Regions from separate parts of the Homo sapiens genome. Here regions 2 and 3 are each linked to region 1. Evidence: fine-mapped expression QTL. A gene starts in region 1. Each other region holds a variant in brackets. All regions are shown on one strand. Distances are from middle to middle.

Region 1 (8,176 bases):
GAAAAACAAGACTGGCAGACTGTGGAGGTCCTGGCAGAGGCTTCAGGCCAGTCATCTTCCCCTCAGAGGAGATACGTCGGAGGCTCCATCGCTGAGGTCAGGGCCAGGGCCATGGTTCCCACTCCCTGACCCGTCAGCCAAGGCACAGGCCCCAGGATGAGCTGGGCTCACACCTGGTACCTGCAGTCTCAGAGCCAACCACACTAGGACTTTGGGGCATGGTTCAGGAAGGAGGAAGCCACAGGCTCCCAGCAACCAGAGCTCCCAGCCCATCCTGTACTCCAGGGAACTACCCGCCTGGATGCACCGCCCAGATGTCAGTGTTCAAGGTAGCTGGGACAGGTGGTGGGCACACTCCCAAGAGCTGCCTAGAGTCTTCACACAAGATCCCAAATAGACCGATTCCCAAAGGCCCAAGGCCATGTTACCCAAGTTAAATCTCTTTAATATCCCAATACAAAGTACTGATGCAAAAAGACAATGAGAAAACCCAGGAAGTTGGGGGGTGGGGGGTGGGGAGAGGTTTTATAAATAAAAAACCCCGAGCAGCTTTTCAGAGGCAGAGGAGCTAAGAGAAGCAGCAGTCCAAAGTGAGGAAGGGAGTGTGTGGCTCCTGGGACCTGCCCCTTGTCCCCTCACTCACAGCTGCTCGTAAACACCCCTTTCAAAAGGGGCTGCACCCTTTGGATATCTGCTTCTTTCTCTTGGTCCCTGGGACGCAACTAGCTCTGGCTTCAATCCCCTACAAAAATTCCTGAGATCTCGGGGACCCCAGCCAGCCCTTCCCCTGCAGTACCCCTTGGTGGGGAGGGCTGGGGAGCCGGTGAGAGTTCATAGCGTATCCAGGAGCATAGGTCAGGAGCACAGGGGAGCCTCTGAGTCCCCTGCCCGCTCCAAAAGCACACAAAGGGGAAGGCTGCCGTAGAGCTTGGGGTCCGTGAGGGGCTGGAGCAGAAGCAGGAAGAGTCCCACACCCAGGGCATAGCCTGCCAGCAGGGGCCGCCTCTGTGGGTGCTCCAAGGCCGCGCAAACAGCTGGGAAACCCATGTAATTGCAGAAGGAATGGCAGAGAACCGGCCCAATCAGGTGTCCTGGGGAAAAGAGACAGCAGCTCAGGGAGCAGCCCTACCACCTCCTCTGGCCCTTCCAGGGCTAGTGACCCTCATCCCCTGAAACAGGAGATCAAGATCCCACTACCCCAGCCATCCACCCACACACCACGGCCTCTGCTCCTTTCCACCTCTCAGACCTCACCAGGCTGAGGGCTCTGGCTCAGCCTGTCTCAAGGACTGGAGTAGAAGAACTTTTGTTCCTAGAACAAACAGTATTCCCATTCTCCCACCCGCTCCTGTGGGCCCCCAGGGACCCATGAGGGACTGAGGACCAACCTGTGCGGATGAAGAGGAAAGCAGTGTAGGCACCGAAGACAGCTGTGTAGGAGAACTGGAACGCTGGAGACGGGGAGGCCACGAGTGACCACACCTGCACGCCCTTCCTGCCCCCACACTACATACCCATCAGCCAAAGACCGACCATCCCCTCCCCCCGGGGCAGTAGCTGCCTGCCCCACCACCTACAGCTGTCCTGCACCCCAACTTCCCACGGTCAGTGGCCTCTCCAATACTGTGGCCCTCAGTTCCCAATTCCTTCTCCAGAGTGGCCATTAGCGACATCATCATACACCCTAACCCAGGCCAGCTAGCCAGGACTCACCAGCAGACAAGAAGATGTTCCCCACGCTGCTCTGGCGGAAACGCAGCTGCTCAATAATATGGTGAAAATGGGCTGGGAAAAAGGTGACAATCACATCACAGTCATTCCTCCCAGCCTCCCTTCTAGGACTGCCCCTCACCTCAAGCCCCCTTCTGAGCTCTCATGCTGAAAACACACCAGGACTAATCTGGCCAGACTCACCAACTCCAAAAAAGAGCGGGCAGGTGAACACAGCAGGGCCCAGGCCCATGCACGGTGCTAACATGGGCAGCATACAGGCCCGGAACACCAGCTCCTCTGTCAGCGGGGCGATCACTTGGTTCCGCAGCCAACGCATGTCTGTGAGGCAGCGGGCCCAGGAGCGGGGGGCTGCAGAGGGAATTCAGGACAAGCTGTGAGTGACGGGCTGTCAGACAGTGAGACCCCAGAGGCTCCAAGGGCTCCTCTCCCACAACTTTACCCTGGCCAAACTCAGGTTAGGCATCAATACTGCTGAGGACGGGGGTGTGGACCCAACATAAACCCAATGTCTTGAGATGACCTGAATGGAAGGCATTAGCTGAGGCAAGGGCATCCTGGAAGTAAACTCTGGAGACACCAAAATTTAAGCAAGACTAGCTCTGGTTGGGGAAGCAGGGGACAGTGCTCTCTGATCCACACCAAATACTGCTGGGGGTTCCCAGGGAACTCCTTGGACGTTGGCAATCAACCCTTAGAGGCCACCTAGCTCTATGTTTCCATTTTACTGATGAGAAAACACACCCAGAGAGATGACATTTCACGTGTCCAGATCACACCCTGAGCCCGCTGACTCCCTGCCCCAATGTCCTGGACTGCCTGTGCCTACTTTTCCCTTCAGCCTTTAAGACTCACCCAGGACAACCTTCAGCCCATCTGCCAGGTCACAAGGGCAATCCATAGAGAGCTGCATCAGTGGGCCCAGGAAAAGAATCTGAGGGCAAGAAAACACTTTCACCATAACCCACCGCTTTTGCCCAGACCTTTGCCCATGCTCCCTGAGACTCCAAGCTTGAAATCCTCTCCAGCCACGATTTCCAGACCATGCATACCGGAGGACCCTGGGGCCATCTCAAAAGTCCTGTCTCCCATCAACCAAAAACCAAAAACAAGAGTCCACGGCACTGCCCATCAGGCTGATAACAAAGACCAGAAGAAAAAATACAGCAGGAGCACTCACCATGGTCAGCAACAGGGGCAGCAGCGCCGCTGGGAAAATGCCCTCCAGCCTGAAGCCCATCAGGGTGAGCAGGGATGTGCCTGGCTGAGCCACAGGAAAGGGGGCATCAGTTTTGCTTCCTCCCCTAAAGACCCCTGAGCTCTCACCGCCGTTGCCCTTTGCCCCGCCTCCTTCGCACCTGGATGCCTGTGAGTTCCCTCCAGAGCAGCACGCACAGGGGTGAGAGACTGGACACCACCAGGACGCTGGTGAAGCGTCGCTTGATGACCGCGGGATGGTCCCTACGGAGGGGACAGTAAGTTCAGGGGGCCCGCGGCTGCCCATGAGCACGGACCCGCCCCCGGCTCGCCCAAGCTCCGCCCGCAGGGCGCGGATTCCGGTCGCGCGCAGCCCCCGCACCTGGGCAGTTCGCTCTTCCAGACGTAGAGGCTGCCCACGTAGGAGCAGGCGAGGCTGAGGCAGGAGAACACTGACACCCAGCAGCACAGCCCGGGGCCCAGGCCGCCCAGCGCCGCCGACTCGGGCGGCCGCTCCGGCCGCGACACCGACAGCAGTCGCAGCCCATCCCCGCCCAGCGCCGCCATTGCGCCCTGACCCGCGGCGCGCACCAGTGACGCAGTCCCAGGGAGGTGTGGGTGACGTCAGGCCGCGGCGCGGCTCCACGCCCCGCCCCGCCCCGCCCGGGCCCGACGCGGAAGCAGACGCGGAAGAGGACTTGGTGAGCGCGCGGCAGCTTTATTAAACCACGGGATAACGGCTGCCCGCAGCCTCCGGATCGGTGGGCGCTTGCGGAAGGGGACCCGGCTCAGGGCCCAGGGCTGGGACTCAGCCACTCTGACAGGTTGGAGACCTCCTGCAGCCACAGCACGTCCTGCGGGAACAAGGGGGCCCGGGGTGAGGACCTCTCAGCAGCGGCCCGTGGCCTGCACCTCCTGCTGAGCCCTTCCCTGCGCGGCCCTCGCCCAGTTACCTCCAGGCGGCTTCCGAGGCTCGCCCTGCCCGGCGCCAGGGCCCTGCCGTGAGCCTCGCGGTGCTCCCTTCCTCTAGGAGTGAGGGGGGCCGCGGTGGCTTCCGGGCGGCGCGGGGCGGCCTCTGACGGGCTCGGGGCCCTGGCAGAGCGCAGAGCTCGCATCTCCTCTATGCGGGGGCTGCCCCTCTTGAGCCTCTTGTTTTCTGCTTGCCCGCTGGTATCTAGGAGAAAAACAAGCCTCTTCATCTTACTTTCATGGCCCTGTGCTAGGAGCACCCTTGGCCAAGGGGAAGCCTGGGAGAACGGGCGCCGAGGGGCTCTTCCCACCGCATCCCTGTCAGCAGGTCCCATCCACACCAAAACCCTGCAGCTGTGGGCGCTTCTGGAGCAGCCCGAGGCTGCAGAGACGTTTCAGGGTCTCCCTATTCTCTCACCCAGGCGGGAGATTGTCCCGAGCCCTCACTTGGGGGACTCAGGCCGCTCAGTAACTTTCTGTATAGATTCTTCCTGGAGTCTGCACTGACAAGCTCCCCTCCCTGCCAGCCTCTGTCCCCCCTCACCTTTCTGGCCTCAGTTCTGTCTCCCTTTGTTGCTCACGTTGCATTGAGCAGTGCCCATAGGCAGCTTTCCTACTCTTAACTGATTCATTTGTCAAATTAAAGCGAGTTTAGATGGATAGATTCTTCCCCAGCAGGTCTTGGGGATGCAGATCAATGAGCTTTTCCCTGAGAGAAGCTCACAGATGCTAGGAGGGGATGCAGACCTGTGTACAAAGCCCAGGGTTAGAATAGAGAAGGAAGCCGACCACCTCTGGATGTGAAGAAGGGTTTCCATGAGGAGATACCTGAGCTGACCTTTTGTTTTTTTGAGACAAGGTCTTGCTCTGTTGCCCAGGCTGGAGTGCAGTGGCTCAGTCCTGGCTCACTGCAGCCTCGACCTCCTGGGCTCAAGCGATCCTACTGCCTCAGCTTCAGCTTCCAGAGTACCAGGAACCACAGGCGCATGCCACCACACCGGCTAATTTTTTTTACTTGTAGAGACAGGGGTCTCACCGTGTTGCCCAGGCTAGTCTCAAGCTGTCCTCCCGCCCCAGCTCCCCAAAGTGACGGTATTACAGGCATAAGTCACCACTCCTGCCCCAGAGCTGGGTTTTGAAGGATGAAGAGTGATATGCCAGACAAGGGAGAGAAAGGGAATTTCTTGCTGAAAGTTAACACAAACCTTATGCAAAGGCATAAAACAACTTCCTATGTAAATTTTTACTTTTTAAAGATGAGGTCTCGCCTGTCACCTAGGCTGGAGTGCAGTGGCGTGATTGTAGCTCACTGCAGCTTTGAACTCCCGGCCTCATCCTCTCGAGTAACTGGGACTAAAGGCACACACCACCTTGCCTGGCTAGAAACAGATTTTCATCTGTAGAAGACAGGAAGCCAATAAAGAGTTTTAAGCACTGGTGAAATATATTGGTAATTTTGTACTTCAGAAAGATCGTTCTTTCAAAGGTGTGGCTTAGATCAAACTAGAGACAGGAAGACCTTAAGAGCCCAATAACAAGTAAAGACAGTGGAGATAGAGGCGTCACCAGGAATCAGAAGTGTTCATCAGGCCTAAGTGATAGGCCTTTGTGAGCGCCTGGATGTGGGAGAGGCCTCTTGGCCGGGCGCGGTGGCTCATGCCTGTAATCCCAGCACTTTGGGGGGCCGAGGCGGGCAGATCACGAGGTCAGGAGATTGAGACCAGCTTGGCCAACATGGTGAAACCCCGTCTCTACTAAAAATACAAAAATTAGCTGGGCATGGTGGTGGGCGCCTGTAATCCCAACTACTCAGAGGCTGAGGCAAGAGAATCACTTGAACTTGGGAGGCAGGGAGGTTGCAGTGAGCCGAGATCACGCCACTGCACTCCAGTCTGGGCAACAGAGGGAGACTCTGTCTCAAAAAAAAAAAAAAAAAAAAAAAATGAGAGGCCTCTTGAATGAATCCAAGATTTCAGATGTGATAAATTGGATTAATCATGAAACAGACTAAAAGTCTCTTTAGTCAGGAGAGAGGAAACTGAGGTACCAATGGGACCTCCACGAGGAGCTGCCTAGTGAGCAAATGAATCTCCCAGCTGGCACTCAGCAGAGGCCTTGGCTGGTCATACCAATTTGAGAGTCTTGAGCCCAGAGGCAGTGGTCAACAGTTGGGATGGAAGATAGCTGGGTGGGAGAGCAGGATGAGCACTATTTAGGCATGACCAGAGGAAAGTAGATGAAGAGAAAAGCCCAGGGAGGGAAAAACCAGGCGAGTCATAGCCTTACAGTGCCAAATTTTGCACATAGTTCAGATACAATGAAGGTAAATGCAAAATTTGGTAATTAAGAGGCCTTCCCTGAGGAGAGAAGTTTCAGAGGCCACAGAAAAAGCAAGTACCCTAAGTGAGGGAGAGAATGAGAGGAAGAAAGGGAGACAGGGTGCATGCAGCTTGTGGTTTTGAGATCCTTGGCTGAGATGTGAGGGAGAGAGGTTGAGGATAAGTGGAGGAAGTTCAAGGTCACGGGAGATTTTCTTCTGATGAAATGAGAGCTTGACCTGCTGAGGGAAAGGAACTCAGGGGAAGGCTGAAGGTGCAGCAGTGATAACTGATGCAAGCAGGTCCCAAGAAAGCAGAAGGGACGATCCCACTGTGAGCCTGGAGGAAATGGGTCCCCACACTGATGAGGTTCTGCAGTGGGAGGGTGCAAGTTGGGTGAGTTTACTGAGAAAAGAGATCCGTAAGTATGAAGCAGGAGGCAGAGACTGGGTAGATTTTTTAAAGAATGGAGTAGCCACTGAGGGACAAAGGCCAGAAAGGCAGGGGGAAGGACTGACAAACCAAAGGCTCCTGAGTGAGTGGACCACCAATGGATGGTGGCATCAACACACAGTTTGGTGATTTTCTTCAGCAGGGCTGCCCATGTGAGGCGTAGAATGGATGCTGAGAGCCACAGGTCTGTAGGACAGAACAGCCCAAGCCATCCTCCAGGGGTTCCACCAGATTATAAACACCTAGATTTTAAAGCTCATGTTGCACACTGGAGAAAACATGGGCTTTGGAGGCGGCAAACTGAAAGTCATTACCTCCTGCTAAGCGTTCTGCCTCACCTGAGCCTGGGTCCTCTAGTTTGTTAGGATCCATGCCTCCCCCTGCCCCCAGAAGGGCACTGTAAAGACTAAATGAGATAAGGCTGTGGAAGACCCCAGCATCTCCCCAGGGTCCACAGAAGGTACTGAATTAAATGTTAATTTTTTTCCTTGTATGGGAAGATACTTATTCCTTTGTCTCTTCTGACTGCATAAATACTGAATTGTATGTATCATATTTGCATTTTTTAAAATCTCCAGATCTAAATTTATAAAAATAGATTCTTTGCTTTGTACAAGCGTTCACAGCAGGGTTCTTTTCAGTAGCAACAGCCCCCACAACATTTAAAACATGGTTCAGTTGACAGTGATTTCAGGGACACATCTTAGGCCTAAGCATAAACGCGTATGTGTTGTGGTTGTGACCCTAGAAAGAGGGATTTACCAACCAAGCATAGGTGCTGACGTCACGATCCCCAGCTTCCCTTGACCCAGATACTGTTTTATCTGAAGGACTCAGGATCTGTAGGAGGGCATCCCTGCTAATTCGGCTCTTCCAGAGACAGCAGAGCTAGGCTGCCTGGGTTTGAATTCTTGCTCTGTCATTTACTGGCTGTGTAGCCTTGGGTAAGTTTATTGATATCTGTGGGCCTCAATTTCCTCATATGCAAAATGAGAGTTAATAACAGTACCTATAGCTCCTAGGATAGTTTTGAGAACTAAGAGCATTAGTACATTTTAAAAGCTCAGAATAGTACCTGGCATCTCTGCTAGTGACTGAATGTGAGAGCTGCTGTACCCCTGCTGCTGTGGGCTGGGAAGGCTGTTTAAGCACTGCAGGAGACATGTATGGAGAAAAGACTTCAGTATAATTGCAATCACAACCCACGCACTGACACTTTCCCATAACACACATTAAGAGTGACATGGTGCCAGGCCGGGCGCGGTGGCTCACGCCTGTAATCCCAGCACTTTGGGAGGCCAAGGCAGGCGGATCACAAGGTCAGGAGATCGAGACCATCCTGGCTAACACGGTGAAACCCCGTCTCTACTAAAAATACAAAAATTTAGCCGGGCGTGATGGCGGGCGCCTGTGGTCCCAGCTACTCGGGAGGCTGAGGCAGGAGAATGGTGTGAACCCGGGAGGCGGAGCTTGCAGTGAGCCGAGATGGCGCCACTGCACTCCAGCCT
Region 2 (8,176 bases), 41 kb before region 1:
GAAAAGACTCGGGAGGGATTCGTTGCAGGCCCTCGGAGGGGCGCAGCCCTGCCCTCACTTGGTTTCGGCCTGTGAAAGTGATGTTGGATTTTTGACCTCCCAAACTGAAAGAGAGTGGGAGGTCTCTTTTGGCATCCCAAACTGATCTTTCTTCTGAGTGGGACTTTTGGCATCACTCCAGGCGCTCCAAGACCTTTCCACATGGATACGCGTCCTTCAGTCCCGGGAGACTTTCCAGCAGGATTCCCCTGCCCCTGGCTCTCTCGTCTCCCCTTCCGGGAGTCCCAGGCAGCTGGATGCTGGACTTGCTGGACTGAGTCTCTTATTTTCTTATCTTTTCTCCTATTTTCCATATGTTAGTCTTTCTGGGTAATGTCCCAAACTATCTTCTAATTCTCTATTTATTATGTTTAAAAATTTTGCAACTCTATTTTTAATTTCCTAGAGCTCTTTCTTGTTGCCTTTTTAAAATAGCTGCCGCCTCTTACTTAATGGATGCAATAGCTTTTCTTGTTTCTCTGAGGAGATAAATTATAGTTTTTCTGAGTATCTGTTCTCTATATTACTTTTCTCCTCAATGTTCCTGTTTTTTAAAAATCCCAATTTGTTTTGGTGAATTTTTTGGTCATTTCCTCAAATATCTGGTGGTGGTTCGCTGACCGTTCACACTGAAAAATGAGACACCAACACCCATTGGCAAGTCTGGGTTGGGGTGGAGCTTGGTGGCCCCTGGTCCTCTCGCTGGGAGATGAGACTGGGCTCCCTGGGGAGCCCACTGCATACCAGTAGCTGCAGGACTCCTGGTTCCTGGAACGGAAGCTTCCAGTTCGCTGCCTGGAAAAGAGCCCAGTAAGCACTCTGTGGAGCCGAGAGGACCTTCCACACATTCCCCAACAGCCATGTGATGCCTCACCTCCTGGGCCAGCCCTGATGGCCGGGGCTGGAGCCTTGTATCTTGGGAAAGACGCTGTGGCACAGTGGTCAAAGGCAGGACCCTAGGTTCTGAAGCCAGGGGCGTGCACCGTGGCACTGACACATCCTAGCAGCGTGCCTTCCTGCCTTCGTCTCTGGAGCGGGCTGGGATGACTCCCAGGTCTCTGCAGCTCAGAACTCTTTACACAGGAGACTCACTGTCTAGCTGTCTGTTCTTTCCAGCCGGATACTCTTCAGGTTCAAAGCTGAGTCACTGTTTCTACCCACATTGGCTTCGCGTTCTTTAATTTGGTGTTGCCATCGTTCACCTTAAAACCCAGGGCCACCCTTCCCTGCTGCCTCTCTGCCTCCCATCTAATGGGTGCTGTTGATGCCACCTCCTAAGTATTTCTTGGCACAGTCCCTCTTCATTCCTATTCCCACCACCGTGGTTCAGGTCCTCATTGTCTCTTGCCCACATTAGAACATCTTCCTAGCTGACCTTCTACTTCTCATCTTTCCTTCTCAAATCCAGCTTCCCCAGAGCTGCCACAGTGGTCCTGAGCTCTCAGTTGCAAATCTGTCTCCCTGCTGCCTGGTATTTCCATAGCATCCCGACATAGAGGACACTGCCCAAGCTGCTGGTGGGGCCCACTAGCTCTGGACTGAGTCTCAGGCTCAGCCCTTAGGCTCCTCTCCCTGCCTGCACTCCCTGCCTCAGCGGGCCACGCCAGGCTGTTTGCTTCCTGCCTTATCTGCCTTTGCTCCAGCCGCCCCAGCACCTGGACCTCCTCCCCTCCTCTGCCTGCCCCCCTCCCTCCCCTCTTCTCCCTCTGGACGTCCCTTCCTCCTCCCACCCTGGAGTCTTTCCTTCAGGCCATCTTGCTAACTCTGCCCTGCTCTCCACGCAGGCGTGGCCCGCCTCATCATCCTTCACTTCTCATCTCTGCTGCCTCTCACTCAGCCTGCCCCAGCCAGCTGATCACAGTCCCAAATAGCGACATGCTCTGAAAGCCACCGCTGTGGCCTGCATCAGGATGTGCGGATGAGAGGGGGGTATTTTTACCATCATTGTGCTTCTCCAGCCCCTGGTGTTAGGATCTGTATAGGATCTGGTTATTTGTAGGCAACCTGGGTGTATTAGATTCCTACAGCTGCCATCACAGGGTGCCAAAAGCTGGGTGAAAACAACGGTGACTTCTTGCCTCACATCTGGAGGCCAGAAACCCCAATTCAAGGTGTGAGCAGGGCCGTGCTCTCTCGGATGGCTCTGGGAGGGTCCTGCCTGGCCACTGCCAGCTTCTGGTGTTTGCCAGCAGTCCTTGGCCTTGCCTGACTTGTAGCTGCCTCACTCCAGTCATGTGGCCGTCATCTCCTGTGTCTTCACATCTTCATTCTGTGTGTGTCTGTGTCCAGATTTCCCCCTTTTTATAAGGACACTAAGCATATTGGATTAGGGCCACCCTAATGACTTTATTTTTACTTGATTACCCTATTTCCAAATAAGGTCACTTTTTTTTTTTTTTTTTTTTAGACAGAGTCTCACTGTTGCCCAGGCTGGAGTGCAATGGCGCCATCTCGGCTCACTGCAACCTCTGCCTCCCGGGTTCAAGCAAATTCTCCTGTCTCAGCTTCCCGAGTAGCTGGGATTATAGGCAGCCACCACCACACCTGGCTAATTTTTTGTATTTTTTGGTAGAGATGGGTTTCGCCTTGTTGGCCAGGCTAGTCTTGAACTCCTGACCTCAGGTGATCAGCCCACTTCAGCCTCCGAAAGTGCTGGGATTACAGGCGTGAGCCATCGCGCCTGGCCCAAATAAGGTCACATTCTGACCTAGGTGCTAGGGGTTAGGACTTCAGTGTATCTTTTTTGGTGGGGGACACAATTCAACCTCTAACACCGGGTGACACCCGCTTGTCCTGAGCTTGACAGGTCCCGAAGTCCCCAAGGCCTCTGGGAGGCCCTCTCTAATCCAGCCAGCATTCATGTCCTGTCATCTTGGAACGAGGGGAATTGAGTGGGGAGCAGGTCCTGTGAAGCTCTCCAGCAGGGGTGGGGTGGCCTGAAGAGGGTCGGGAAATGTCCTGGGCCACCTGCAAGTGTCTGCTGGGTCCTGGCATCTTCCTCCCTGCAAAGATTGTCCAGTTCTGTTTAGAATTGAGTCTTTGGTGCCCCTAGCCTCTGTCGCCCCTCGCAGCCCTGAAACTCAGCTTCCCTGGTTCCCATTGCCAGGCTGCGTCTGAGTCCTTTTGGGCTTTAGTGACAAAATACCACAGGCTGGGTGGCTTTTAAACAACAGACATTTATTTCTCACAGTTATGGAGGCTGGAAGTCCAAGATCAAGGTTTCAACATATGGGTGTGGGGGGCACAGGCACGCTCTGCATTAGTCTGGGAGGTGCTTTTTGCTGACCTTGTCCTTCAGACCCTCTCTCTGTCCTGTCAACATCACTTTGGGCTCTAATCAATATGTATGGGACATTTGTGTGTCCCACTAGTGTGTGTGTGCTGTTCCCAGGAGGGGCCAAGCCTTACTAATCTTTATCTGAATGCTCCATAATATTTCTAGGTAAATCTTTTTTTTTAACTAATTGATTAATTATTTTTTGAGACAGAGTCTTGCTCTGTTGCCCAGGCTGGAGTGCACTGGGACCATCATGGCTCACTGCAGCTTCAACCTTCTAGGTTCAAGCAATCCTTCTGCCTCAGGCTTCCAAGCAGCTGAGACTATCTATGGGCACCACCATGCCCAGCTAATTTTTTTTTTTTTTTTTTGAGATGGAGTTTTGCTCTTGTTGCCCAGGCTGGAGTGCAATAGCACGATCTCAGCCCACCGCAACCTCTGCCTCCCACGTTCAAGCGATTTTCCTGCCTCAGCCTCCCAAGTAGCTGGGATTACAGGCGTGTGCCACCATGCCCGGCTAATTTTGTATTTTTAGTAGAGATGGGGTTTCTGCATGTTGGTCAGGCTGGTCTTGAACTCCCAACCTTAGGTGATCCACCCGCTTCAGCCTCCCAAAGTGCTGGGATTACAAGTGTGAGCCACGTGCCAGGCCACACCCAGCTAATTTTAAAAAGTTTTTTTTTTAATTTTTTGGCAGAGACAGGATCTCAATATGTTGCCCAAGCTGATCTCAAACTCCTAGACTCAAGTGATACCCCTGCCTCGGCCTCTTAAAGTGCTGAGATTA[C/T]AAGCATGAGCCACCACGCCTCACGGTGAATCTTAACAGCCTCATGCCACTCTGCAACCTCATTGTGACCTGAAGTATTTCTTCACTGATTCATTCCCTCAGACATTTATTTAGTTCTGGTCTTACGCACTGTACAGAGTGCCAGGGAGATGTGGGGACAAAAGAGACCAGGGATCCTGTGCCCAGGGCCCTAACAGTGTCTATTAAAGGAGACAAGACGGGTCAACAAATCTTTATAACATTAAATGCTCTTTGCTGAGGACACAGACGCCACGGAGACCTCATGGAGAGCCCCCTGAGCAGGACGATGGGTGGGGCACAGACAAGGACAGAGCTGAGGGAGGTGGCTGCCCGGGGAATATAGGGAAGGCATTCCTGAGCCTACTCCTATAGGATGTGGAGGAATGGGGACAAGTGACCTTCCCATGTGAGCCCTGCCCACACCCCGTGCTGCAGGGTCGGCAGGAAGCTGGCTCCTCGTGCGCCAGGGGGCAGTGTTGGCCCTGAAATTCTCACTGCTTTCCAGTGAGGCTGGGATGGAGCAGCCACCTCACTGCAGGCCCTCGGGACCCCTCACTCTGCTTTCTCTGAGACCCCCTTTGTCCCCCAGTCCACAAGTCCCGAGACCATGGCGCCAGTCGCCTCGGTGCCACCCTTTCCCCCTCGGCTGCTCCTTTGAATAGAGGGTTGCCAGGGCGATGAGGAGCCCTGCTGGCACTGTTCACTGCTGTTCGTCGCCGCAGTGCCACTTGGAGCAGCCGGCGCTCCTGGGGGCCCAGAGCCCGGACAGCTGAGCCTCGGCGAGCACCCGTGCTGTGTCTGTTTCCGTCTTTGGTATTGTCTCTCTCCTGTCTTCTGTGTCTGTCACCTGCATTGTTTCCAGCGTCCTCCCTTCTGCCCCCCCTGCCCAGAAATCTCAGCCTCAGTCTGTCCTCTCTTGGGTGCTTTGATATCAGCCGTGGCAGCCCTGAGAGCCAGGTGGAGTCGTTCTTTCATCTGTCCCTCTTGGCTGCCAGCCCTGGGGCCCGTCGGACATGTTTAGAGCAGAGCCGCCTGGGGAGAGCGGCCCCATCCGTCAGAGCTGCCACCGCCGCAGCCCCGAGTGCTCTGCCAAGAGCTCTTTCTTTCTGGTTCTGACCTGCTTTCACTGGCAGCTGTGGAGCCCAGCTGGGGCTAGGGGCACAGCCTGGTGCGGGTGCTGGTGCTGGGGGCAGCTGGGCCCATAGGAAGTAGGTGTGTGGAGCTTTGTTGGTTCGGAGGTTCCTGGGGCCTGTTTCTGAACCACACTTCTTTCTTCTCTGCCCTCTGCTGCTCTCCAGCACACCTCTGAGGATTTGCTGAGGGACCCAGGTGCTCTGCTGGGCTTTCAGAACCAACTTGCTGGCCACCCGCCCCTGAAGCAGGGCCTGGTCTTTCCCTTCCTCTGCGGCCTCTTGCCCACTGCTGCCCTCTGAGGCTGCAGGAGACGCTCTGTGAGGACAGGAATATGTAGGACGAAGCGATGTGGGGCCTCAGCTGCAGCAGCTCTTAGGTGGCGCCCTGCCCTGGTCCCCAGAAAGGCTGCTGAGCACTGGGGCCACGTTGTTGTCTGGAACAAAACTTGGGGGATGATGGCCTGACAGCAGGATTCTGTGCTCCTTCTGGTTGCAAGAGGCATCCTGGGAGATGTAGTTCAGGTCTGAAGTAGTGGGATTTCAGGGACATTTTGATGATTTATTAGACAAATTGAAACTGCCTTGGCTTATCTGGGACATGTGACTGCTGACATTGTTCGTCAGCTCTCGTTGGGAAGCTCTGAGTGCCACTGGTGGCCCTGCTGGAGGCCAGGCCAGTGACAGTTTTATCAGAAGTGGGGTTTTTGGTTTTGGTATTTTGGTTTCCAAGTGCCTGTCACACTGTGCTCCTGATGAAAGCCGTGACTTACTCCTTTAGTTGAGTGAAGAGTCCATAGGCCAACTCTGATGGGTCCGAGCTCCTGCTCTGGAGGGGGCCATATGAAGCGGGCTCCAGGCCGGCTCTGCTGGTGGCCTGGGTGTGTCACTTAATCCCACTGCACCTGGTCCCTTACCTGTACAGGGAGGTGATGAGGGGCTGTGAGGGTTACTGAGTGAGTCTGCGTGAAGAGCCACAGTGGCCCCTGCCTGGCAAGGAGCAAGGCTCTGCTGGGGTCACTGCCCACCATTGTGCCCTCCTCCACTGGCACTGGCCGGGCACCAGGTGGAGCTCAGTGAGTATGTGTTGTGTGCTATGGAAGCGGCAGCTCTGTCAGGAGCGGGGCAGGTGACGGCCAGGCCCTCGCCCTGCCTCAGCCTGCAGGTCGTCGTAGGTGCCTTCCTGACTCCCTTCTGGAAGGGGAATGCTGAGTTATTGATCTGAAGCTGAAGCTGGGAGGGAAATGGAAGCTGTGGAGTCACCCGAGAGGCAGCAGGGGAGGAAGCAGGTGCCCCACACACTACTGGCTTCACTGTGGCTCATTCTTGCTTGCAAGGAGTTATTTACACGTCCCAAGTGACAGTCAAAGCTGTCTTATTTCTTGGTCTCTTATGCACAACCCGAGGCCAAGAAAAGGGATCTGTCAGCTGGCATTTGCAGAAAATAGCAAGTGGGTCTCTGGGCTGTCAGCTCTCTGGAGAGGAAAACAGGGTGAAGGATCTTTGGGTGATGGTGGTTGCTTTTCTCTCACTCACTCACTACTGTTTCCCCATTTCTGAGGTCAGAAAGGGAGAGCTTTGCTTGTGTGTATCACCAGGAGCAAGCAAGACAGTGGCATCCCCCGAGGCGTGTAACTGTAACCTGAGCTGGTTGCTGGCCCTGGCAGCATCCCAGAATGCCCTTCACACCTGGGGCTCTAGCAGCCTCCCTTGAAGAGTTGCGGCTCAGCTCGAGGGAGCAGGAAACGGCTCTGTGGGTTCTGTTAGTAAAGCCCTCTGCATTTCCAGGGAAGCTTCTCAGCCAAACTTGACAACCTTGAGAACTTCTTGATTGCCATCCACCAACCAAATACCCAAAAGCAGGGTGCAGCATGGGACTGCAGCATGGGACTGCAGCATGGGACCGCAGAGGGAGCCTGGCCCCAGCCATTGCTGCCCCCTGCTTCCTGTGCCTGGCCATCGCCTATTCTGTGCCGTGCTGTGAAGATGGCAGGAAGTGCCTGGAATGGTGCCAGCCAGAAGGGCTGCAGACTGGTGGCACTTGCTGGGAATGTGCCATTGTGAGTTGAAAGGCTGGCATACTCCAGTGTCTGGGCTTGGTTTCGTACAGCCTGAGGACCGGGAGTGTCATTAATACCAGAGGCAAGGCTTCTGGGGGTCTCAGGAAGGCCGTCTCCCACCCTCTGCTGCCACTTCCGAGGGTCACCATAGGTGCCTCCAGCTGCAGGGGTTCCTTCTTCTATACCCCAAGTGCTGTGCAGAGGCCCCTGCTCCCTTCGGCTTTGGGGAATGGTCTAGTATTGGGGAGCAGGGGGAGTCTGCCCACCCAGCTCCTCCCTTTGAACCATCCCAGACCCCTCAAGCTCAGCATACCCAGAGTCGGCTTATTCCACCATAACCTTGAAGACCCTGCTTCCTGGAGAGAGGGTGGTGTGAGGGGGCCACGCCCATCTTACAGTGCGGTTTCTCCCAGCCGATGTTGATTCTGGAAAGGCCTGGGTTTCAGATCTGGGAAGGCAGTGCCATTCGATAAGGAAAAACTGGGTTAACCAAGTTCTAGGAAGGGTGCAGGCGCCCTGGGAATGCAGTGGTGTTTCAGTTCATCTTTATGTCTGTTGGGCCCCATCCGTGCCTGGCATTGTGTGCGGGTCAGGGAGAGACAGGTTGGTGGTGGGGGTCTTGTGTGACCACAGCGGTGAGCTTAGTTTCAGGGCCATAACTAGGTTCTAAGGAGCAGTGCAGCCCTCACCCTCCGTCATTCACAGCAGCTCCTGACAGCCTTCCCCAGCCCCACACTGCCTGCTGGCCAACATTTCCGTGTCTTCCGCCTCACTCGGCAGCACATCCCAAATCCATCACAGAAACCTGCCCTCCCGTCTCTGACTGCCTCCTGTCTCAGACCACCTCCCTCATCATCTTGCC
Region 3 (8,176 bases), 41 kb after region 1:
GTGAGTTGCCTACAGTCACACAGCTAATTAGTAGTGAATCCAACATTTACACTCCTGTGCCATGCTCTAAACACAGCACTACACGACTCTTACCTATGGAGGAAACTGAGACTCTAAAATTCTGTATCTCTAAATCTGACCATTTCCAAGTTCCAGACCAAATTCCTATATAGCTCCTTACTATGTTCAAAGGATGTCTTGAGACACCATAAACTCAACATGTTTAATGTCAAACTCATCTTCTTTATCTCCTAAATCTGCTATTAATGTTTTTTTATCTTGCTGAAAGTATCATTATTCTGTCAGTTATTCATGGAAATATTTTTAAATAGCTTTATTGAGATACAATTCACATACCATACAATTCACTCATTTTAAATGTGTAATAAAATGGATTTTAGAATATTCAAAGAGTTGTGCAGTCACTACCACCATCAATTTTAGAACACTTTCATTACTCTGAAAAGAAGCCCCTCCAGGCCGAGCACAGTGGCTTATGCCTGTAATCCCAAAACTTTGGGAGGCCGAGCCTGGTGGATCGCTTGAGTCCAGGAGTTTGAGACCAGCCTGGGCAACATGGTGAAACTCTGTCTCTACCAAAAATGCAAAAATTAACTGGGCATGGTGGCATGCACCTGTGGTCTCTAGGAGGCTGAGGTGGGAGGATGGTTTGAGTCCGGGAAGCAGAGGTTGCAGTGAGCTGAGATTGTGTCACCGCACTCTGGCCTGTGCAACAGAGCCAGACCTTGTCTCCAAAAAAAAAAACAAAAAAGCCCCTCCATCAACTTTCTCTCTGTATTTGCCTATTCTAGACAGACATAGAATAGAAATCTGACATCAACCTTAGACATTCCCTGCCCCTAATCTCTCCCTACCTTAATAATGAACTGGTTACCACATTTTGTTGATTAATTCAGGTGATAAGTCTGGCCTTTCCGTGCCTACCACACTTTAGATTCAAGCACTCATTATTATTGTTATTTTATTTTTATTTTTTCTGAGGCAGAGTCTTGCTCTGTCACCGAGGCTAGAGTGCAGTGTCGTGTTCTTGGCTCACTGCAGCCTCCACCTCCCAGGTTCAAGTGATTCTCCTGCCTCAGCCTCCCAAGTAGATGGGACTATAGGCGTACACCACCACGCCTGGCTTTAATTAATTTATTTTTTTGAGACGGAATCTCACTCTGTTGCCCACGCTGGAGTGCAGTGGCTGCGATCTCGGCTCACTGCAACCTTTGCCTCCCAGGTTCAAGTGATTATCCTGCCTCAGCCTCCTGAGTAGCTGGGATTACAGGCGCCTGCCACCATGCCCAGCTAATTTTTGTATTTACTAAGATGGGGTTTCACCATGTTGGCCAGGCTGGTCTCCAAGTCCTGACCTTGTGATCCATCCGCCTCAGCCTCCCAAAGTGCTGGGATTACAGGTGTGAGCCACCACGCCCGGCCTAATTTTTGTATTTTTAGTAGACAGGGTTTCACCATATTGGCCAGGCTGGTCTCAAACCCCTGACCTCAAGTGATCCGCCCACCTCGGCCTGCCAAAGTGCTGGGATTACAGGTGTAAGCCACTGCACCCAGCCGTCAAGCACTCATTATTTTTAATCCAGTTCACTTACTTATTTACTTAGTATTACTAACTTCTGTCTCCCATCCGTACTCTATAATGCTGCTAAAGACTTCTCCCAAAACATTCAATGGTTTCTTACTATACAGAGAATAAAATTCACAATCCTTAGTATGGCACTCAAGATCTACCATATTCAACTCCAGACTACTTTTCTAGTCCCATCTCTTCCTCGTGCACCATTCATTTCATGCTTCAGTCATATTGGATTGTATGAAAAACGCATGGCATGTGTCACATTTTACAGTTTTCAGTTCCCTGGCAAAATTTTCAAGCTTGGCTTTCACATTAGATTATATGTTTTTATACAAATCATATATATTTGTAGATGCAGAATTCACATACTAAAGGCTTTCCTAAAACTGGGATATAAAAACCCATTTCAAAGATAATTGGATGGAACTTTTCATCAAAAGGATATGGAAACTGAAGAAATCCTGTTAAGCTGGTTGGAAGAAACCTTTGGGCTGGGGCACAGTGCAGCTGCTGGAGTCAGTATCAGTTCTCCCAACAAGTCCATGCCAGCCACGTCTTCAGGGATGAAAAGCATTACTGGATGTCCTAGCACAGGGTGAATTCTGCTGCAGTGTGATTCAATTGTACCAAAATTTGGTCTACTGTCAGAAAACAGACAAGTCAAATTTAACATTTTTTCCTCTTAAGAAATTATTTAAAAGAGCATTCAAAATTATTTTTGTAACCTCTAGCATATGTACAACCACACAACCTGCCATATCAGTTTTGTTGGAATAAATAACTTATGTCTCACTCAGGGAATCACAGCAATGGAAGTAGTAGAAAAACTGGCATTTCAGAGATATCATTGCTCCTGCTTTTGCTGCCACTAACGGATGCTTCTTAGTTTCTCTTTTTAAAAAAACATTTTAGACCAGGCATTGTGGCTCATGCCTGTAATCCCAGCACTTTGGGAGGCTGAGGTGGGTGGATCACTTGAGGTCAGGAGTTCAAGACCAACCTGGCCAACATGGTGAAACTCCATCTCTACTAAAGATACAATAGCTGTGCATGATGGTGCACACCTGTAATCCCAGCTATTCAGGAGGCTGAGGCAGGAGAATCGCTTGAACCTGGGAAGCGGAGGTTGCAGTGAGCTGATATTGCGCCACTGCACTCCAGCCTGAGCAACAGAGCGAGACTTTGTCTCGAAAAATAATTACTATTATTTTATTTTATTAGAGATGGGGTCTCACTATGTTTATTAGGCTGGTCTCAAACTCCTGGCCTCAAGCAATCTTTCTGCCTTGGCCTCCCAAAGTGCTGGGACTACAGGTGTGAGATATCATGACCAGCCTGTTTCTTATTCTCAAGTATACTTCCTCCACTAAAATTAATCTTTGGTTCTGAGCAAATTTCCAAATTCATTCAAAGGTCAGCATTGTGTGAGGGGGCCCATGAATCACAAATGGCCTAAAACTGGCCCCATGATACTTATAAGTCTGCTCTCACGCATGCTACACCTTCCGCTGAAGAGGTCTGAGGTTGCTGTTTGATAGTAACAATGAGAAAAAACCAGGCCATCTTTCTCTCCTAGAAAGAATCTAGTAAAATTTTGTTACTTTCCAATAGCTCTTTTCTAAACAGAGAGAAAACAGTCAACCTGAGAAAGCTGATTAAGAATGAATGAATTAATTAATAGAGAGGAAATATTAATGAACCTTTCCCTTTGTCTCTAATCAGGTCATCCAAGGAAACACATCTACAAAAATTGGCTCAAAGGCTTAAACTTGTGTCAGTACAACTATGATGATGAGCTGCTACCTGTAAGGATTGTTTATTATTAGAGGATCACTAAAGAAAGATATGGGGTGGGGAAATTATTACCTGCATATTAAATGACAAAAATATTCTCATCTGAGGTGTAATTTTGGGTGAGAATAAGAAAACAGACTAAGAACCACAGGCAGTCTCTTTAAGCCTTAAGAGACTTTGACTACTAGTGTTGCCTCTGGGCACATAAATAGAGGCAGAAACTAATGAATAAAGACTAAATTAGGGCTGGACACATTGGCTCACATCTGTAATCCCAGCTCTTTGAAAGGCCGAGGCAGGAGGATTGCTTGAGTCCAGGAGTTTGACACCAGCCTAGGCAACAACCTCATCTCTACAAAAAAAAATTTTTTTTAAATTAGCAGTATATGGGCTGGGCGCAGTGGCTCATGCCTGTAATCTCAGCACTTTGGGAGACCGAGGCAGGAGGATCACGAGGTCAGGAGATTGAGACCATCCTGGCCAACATGGTGAAACCCCATTTCTACTAAAAATACAAAAAAATTAGCTGGGCGTGGTGGCATGCACCTATAGTCCCAGCTACTCAGGAGATTGAGGCAGGAGAATCGCTTGAACCAGGGAGGTGGAGGTTGCAGTGAGGTGAGATCTGCACTCCAGCCTGGGCGAAAGAGCGAGACTCCGTCTCAAAAAAAAAAAAAATTAGCAGCGTATGGTAGCATATTTCTGTGGTCCTAGCTACTAGCTACTCGAGAGGCTGAGGTGGGAAAATGACTTGAGCCCAGGAGACCAAGGCTGCAGTGAGCTATGATGGCATCTGGGTTGAA[C/A]AGACTGAGACCCTGTCTCAAAAAAAGAAAAAATAAATTAATTGGACTTAAGCATATGTTAGGTCTTTTCTTGACATAATTCATTTTCACTTTGGATTCTGTGGTAGTTAAATGGCACAGGAAGGCAAGACAGAAGGGCTCTGTGTGTTCCATATTGTTTACCACCTCCTCCATGGATTTTTTACATTTTTTATTTATTTATTTTTTTTGAGACAGAGTCTTGCTCTGTCGCTGGAGTGCAGTGGCGTGATCTCGGCTCACTGCAACCTCCACCTCCTGGGTTCAAGTGATTCTCATGCTTTGGCCTCCCAAGTAGCTGGGATTACAGGCATGTGCTACCATGCCCAGCTAATTTTTGTATTTTTAGCAGAGACAGGGTTTTGCCATGTTGGCCAGGCTGGTCTCAAACTCTTAACCTCAAGTGATCCATCAACTTCAGCCTCCCAAAGTGCTGGGATTATAGGCATGAGCCACTGCGCCTGGCCAGATTTACTTTCTTGGAGTCTGAAGAAGATGGAGATGGGCAGAGAGATGATTTCCAAACCTATGCAAAATGCTGATGCACAGAAAATAATGTACACTGAATTCCTTTGTATTCATACTATCTCTCTAGCCAAGAATTCAAGTAAAGTTTTAAATTCATAGTCTTCTCTTCTCATGCCTAAATGGGATTGGAACTAGCAGGGTCTGTGTAAAATAAGGCCTGAAGAGAAGAAGGCACATGTCTTCAGGTCATTTAGAATAGATTCAAATACATAAATAACTTAAAATAGCAGTTTTCAACATAAAAAAAAGTTTTACTTCTGCTTTTCTTATAGAGAAGCTGACACCTGGCACTTACAAATGACAAGTGAGACAATTTCCAATTTCTACCCACATTCGTACTCGAGAGGAGAGTAAAACATGCAGAGGGACAACAAGGCTTTACGCCTTCACCTCACATAATGCTGGGAGTCGACCAAAAGAGCAATTCCATTCCCAAGGTTCAAAGTGGGTTCATTCTCCACCCTGCAAAGCAAAGCAAAGCTAAGCCATCTCTCAAAGATTCTAAAATCAATCTCTGTTTGACATAAATTTTGGCCCATGACTACTACCACCCCAGCGATTACTAGAATTCAGTAACTAATTAACCAAGGGGAAAATGGCAATCTTTAAGTTTACCCCCTCTAGAGACAGGGATGAATCTACTAAAATAATAAAATGTGGGGGTGTCAGAAAATTAGTTTCAAGGTGACTTTGGGTCAAGATATCAAACTGTGAACCTTTTGGAAATAGGACAATAATAGCTGAGAAAAATTGCAGAGCCATAGCATCATCTTAAGCCATAGACCTAAGAACTTACCCAAAGATCTCTGTGGAGAGGATTCCATTTACCTTTACACTGAAATGAAATCTGACCTGCAAAACAATAAGTTAAGTGTGAGATTTAACATGAGCCAAGATACAGATTAAAAACTTCCATATCTAATCCCTAAAGGAAAAGAATAAGCTTAAAAAATTTTAAATTAACATTACTTTTAATTGATAAACTATAACTGTATACATTCATAGGGTACAATGTGGTGTTTTGATATATGTATATAATGTGGAATGATTAAATCAAGTAGATTAACATCTATCACATAACTTACTAGCATTTTTTGTGGTAAGACATTTGAAATTTACTCTCAGCTATTTTGAAATATATAATACATTATTATTGACTATAGTCACCCCCCTGTGAAATAAGATTCTAAAGACTTATTCCTCCTGTCTAACTGAAACTTTGTACACTTTAACTAACAACTCCCTATTTCCTTCCTTAACCCACTCCCAGCCTCTGGTAACCACCATTCTATTCTCTACTATGAGTTTGACTTTTTCAGATTCCACATATAAGTGAAATCATACAGTATTTGTCTTTCTGTTGATTAAGAAAATGTGGTATATACACAATGGAATACAGTTAGTTTTTTGTGGTTTTTTTTTTTTTTTGAGACAGGGTCTTGCTCTGTTGCCCAGCCTGGAGTGCAGTGGTGTGATCTTGGTCTCCCAGGCTCAAGTGATCCTCCCACCCCAGCCTCCTGAGTAGTTGGGACCACAGGCATGTGCCACTACACCCAGCTACTTTTTGCATTTTTTTGTAGAGACAGGGTTTCACCATATTGCCCAGGCTGGTCTTGAACTCCCAAGGTCAAGTGATCCTCCTGCCTCAGCCTCCCAAAGTGCTAGGATTATAGGAATGAGCCATCATACCCAGCCTAGTCAGCCTTTAAAAAGAAGGAAATCCTGTCATTTGTGACACGGATGAACCTAGAGAAACAAGACTTTTTTTTTTTTTGAGACGGAGTTTCAGTCTGTCGCCCAGGCTGGAGTGCAGAGTGCAATGGCGCAATCTCGGCTCACTGCAACCTCCGCCTCCTGGGTTCAAGCAATTCTCCTGCCTCAGCCTCCCGAGTAGCTGGGACTACAGGCACGCGCCACTGTGCCCAGCTAATATTTGTATTTTTAGTAGAGATGGGGTTTCGCCATGTTGGCCAGGCTGGTCTTGAACTCCTGACCACCCAAGTGAGTGATCCACCCACCTCGGCTTCCCAAAGTTTTACTTCTGCTGGGATTACAGGCATGAGCCACCGTGCTCAGCCAGGAAAAAGACATTCTTTTTTTTTTTTTTGAAATGGAGTCTCACTCTGTCTCCCAGCCTGGAGTGCAGTGGCAAAATCTCAGCTCACCGCAACCTCCACCTCCCAGGTTCAATCAGTTCTCCTGCCTCAGCCTCCTGAGTAGCTGGGACTACAGGCACGCGCCACCATGCCCAGCTAATATTTGTATTTTTTTTTTTTTTTTTTTTTGGAGACAGAGTCTTGCTCTGTCACCCATGCTGGAGTGCAATGACACAATCTCGGCTCACTGCAACCTCCACTTCCCAGGTTCAGGTGATTCTCCTGCCTCAGCCTCCTGAGTAGCTGGGATTACAGGCGTGCGCCACCATGCCCGGCTAATTTTTGTATTTTTAGTAGAGACGGGGTTTCGCCATGTTGGCCAGGCTGGTCTCGAACTCCTGACCTCAGGTGATCTGCCCACCTCGGCCTCCCAAAGTGCCGGGATTACAGGCGTGAGCCACTGTGCCCAGCCAATATTTGTATTTTTAGTAGAGACAAGGTTTCACTATGTTGGCCAGGATGGTCTCAATCTCCTGACCTTGTGATCCACCCACCTCGGCCTCCCAAAGTGCTAGGATACAAGCGTGAGCCACCACGCCCGGCCAAAAAATACATTCTTTATCACTTGTATTTTCCCTAAACATACTTAATGCTTGCCTGTGTTTAAATTCTAAATCTTAAATATATTGAGCCCTATATCACAGCTCCAGGTTGTCACAAATTATCAGAAATCATCCCTGCCTCTTTGCCATTCTCTCAACCCCTATCCCTTAACTTTTTTTTTTTTTTTTTTTTTTTTGAGACAGAGTCACTTTGTCACCTAAGCTGGAGTGCAATGGTGTAAACACGGTTCACTGCAGCCTCAACCTCCTGGGTTCAAGCGATTCTCCTGCCTCAGCCCCTCAAGTAGATGGGACCACAGGTGCATGGAACCACACCCGACTAATTTTTGTATTTTTAGTAGAGACAGAGTTTCACCATCTTGCCCAGGCTGGTCTGGAACTCCTGAGCTCAAGCAATCCGCCCAAGTCGGCCTCCCAAAGTGCTGGGATTACAGGTGTGAGCCACCACACCCAGCCCCTTCACCTCCTTTTTAAAGGAACTATCCATTTTTATTTCTATTATTTTCATATGTGGAACATTCCATGCTTTTTTCTTTGCTTTTTCTTCCTCTTCTCCATCTGACTTTTATATCCTCTCCAGTGTACCTCACTGTTCTAATTATTCTCTCCATTCACCTATATTTTTCTTTCTGTGTAACATAAGGTAAGAAGTGACTCTAGAACCAGACTGCCTGAGTTCAAATCCTGACTCTTCAAGTTATTTACTCTCTGTACCAT

Alleles and levels. Alleles are on the strand shown, and positions count from the first base shown. SD is a standard deviation of normalised expression in the study named. Not every link is listed here.
With allele T in place of C in region 2, the expression in prefrontal cortex of the gene that starts at base 3,510 in region 1 is higher (small effect, 0.38 SD a copy in GTEx).

Evidence for each region. PIP is the estimated chance that this variant, and not a neighbour inherited with it, causes the effect.
Region 2: its variant is fine-mapped to the expression of RCE1 in prefrontal cortex (GTEx, PIP 0.92).
Region 3: its variant is fine-mapped to the expression of RCE1 in whole blood (TOPMed, PIP above 0.99).

What each region holds. Positions count from the first base shown.
Region 1 is chr11:66,838,775-66,846,950 of GRCh38, reverse strand. It overlaps RCE1 (Ras converting CAAX endopeptidase 1), which reads right to left and starts at 3,510. Exons shown (of 8, transcript NM_005133.3): 1 at 3,311-3,510; 2 at 3,090-3,192; 3 at 2,912-2,995; 4 at 2,587-2,665; 5 at 1,915-2,082; 6 at 1,714-1,785; 7 at 1,389-1,451; 8 at 399-1,091. The coding sequence starts at 3,495. The coding sequence ends at 856. TOP6BL (TOP6B like initiator of meiotic double strand breaks) reads right to left here. Exons shown (of 15, transcript NM_001302084.2): 14 at 3,882-4,102; 15 at 3,435-3,782. The coding sequence ends at 3,717. RefSeq lists an enhancer at 2,933-3,639 and silencers at 3,280-3,719, 3,830-3,969, 5,187-5,313.
Region 2 is chr11:66,879,756-66,887,931 of GRCh38, reverse strand. The region is part of intron 3 of PC (pyruvate carboxylase); the gene reads left to right. Among named protein-coding and RNA genes, the nearest start is that of LRFN4, 27 kb to the right of the region's middle. RefSeq lists enhancers at 4,481-5,218, 5,219-5,956. The variant C/T (reference allele first, on the strand shown) is at 4,104.
Region 3 is chr11:66,798,057-66,806,232 of GRCh38, reverse strand. TOP6BL (TOP6B like initiator of meiotic double strand breaks) reads right to left here. Exons shown (of 15, transcript NM_001302084.2): 5 at 5,537-5,592; 6 at 5,131-5,202; 7 at 2,043-2,238. Among named protein-coding and RNA genes, the nearest start is that of RCE1, 41 kb to the left of the region's middle. The variant C/A (reference allele first, on the strand shown) is at 4,195.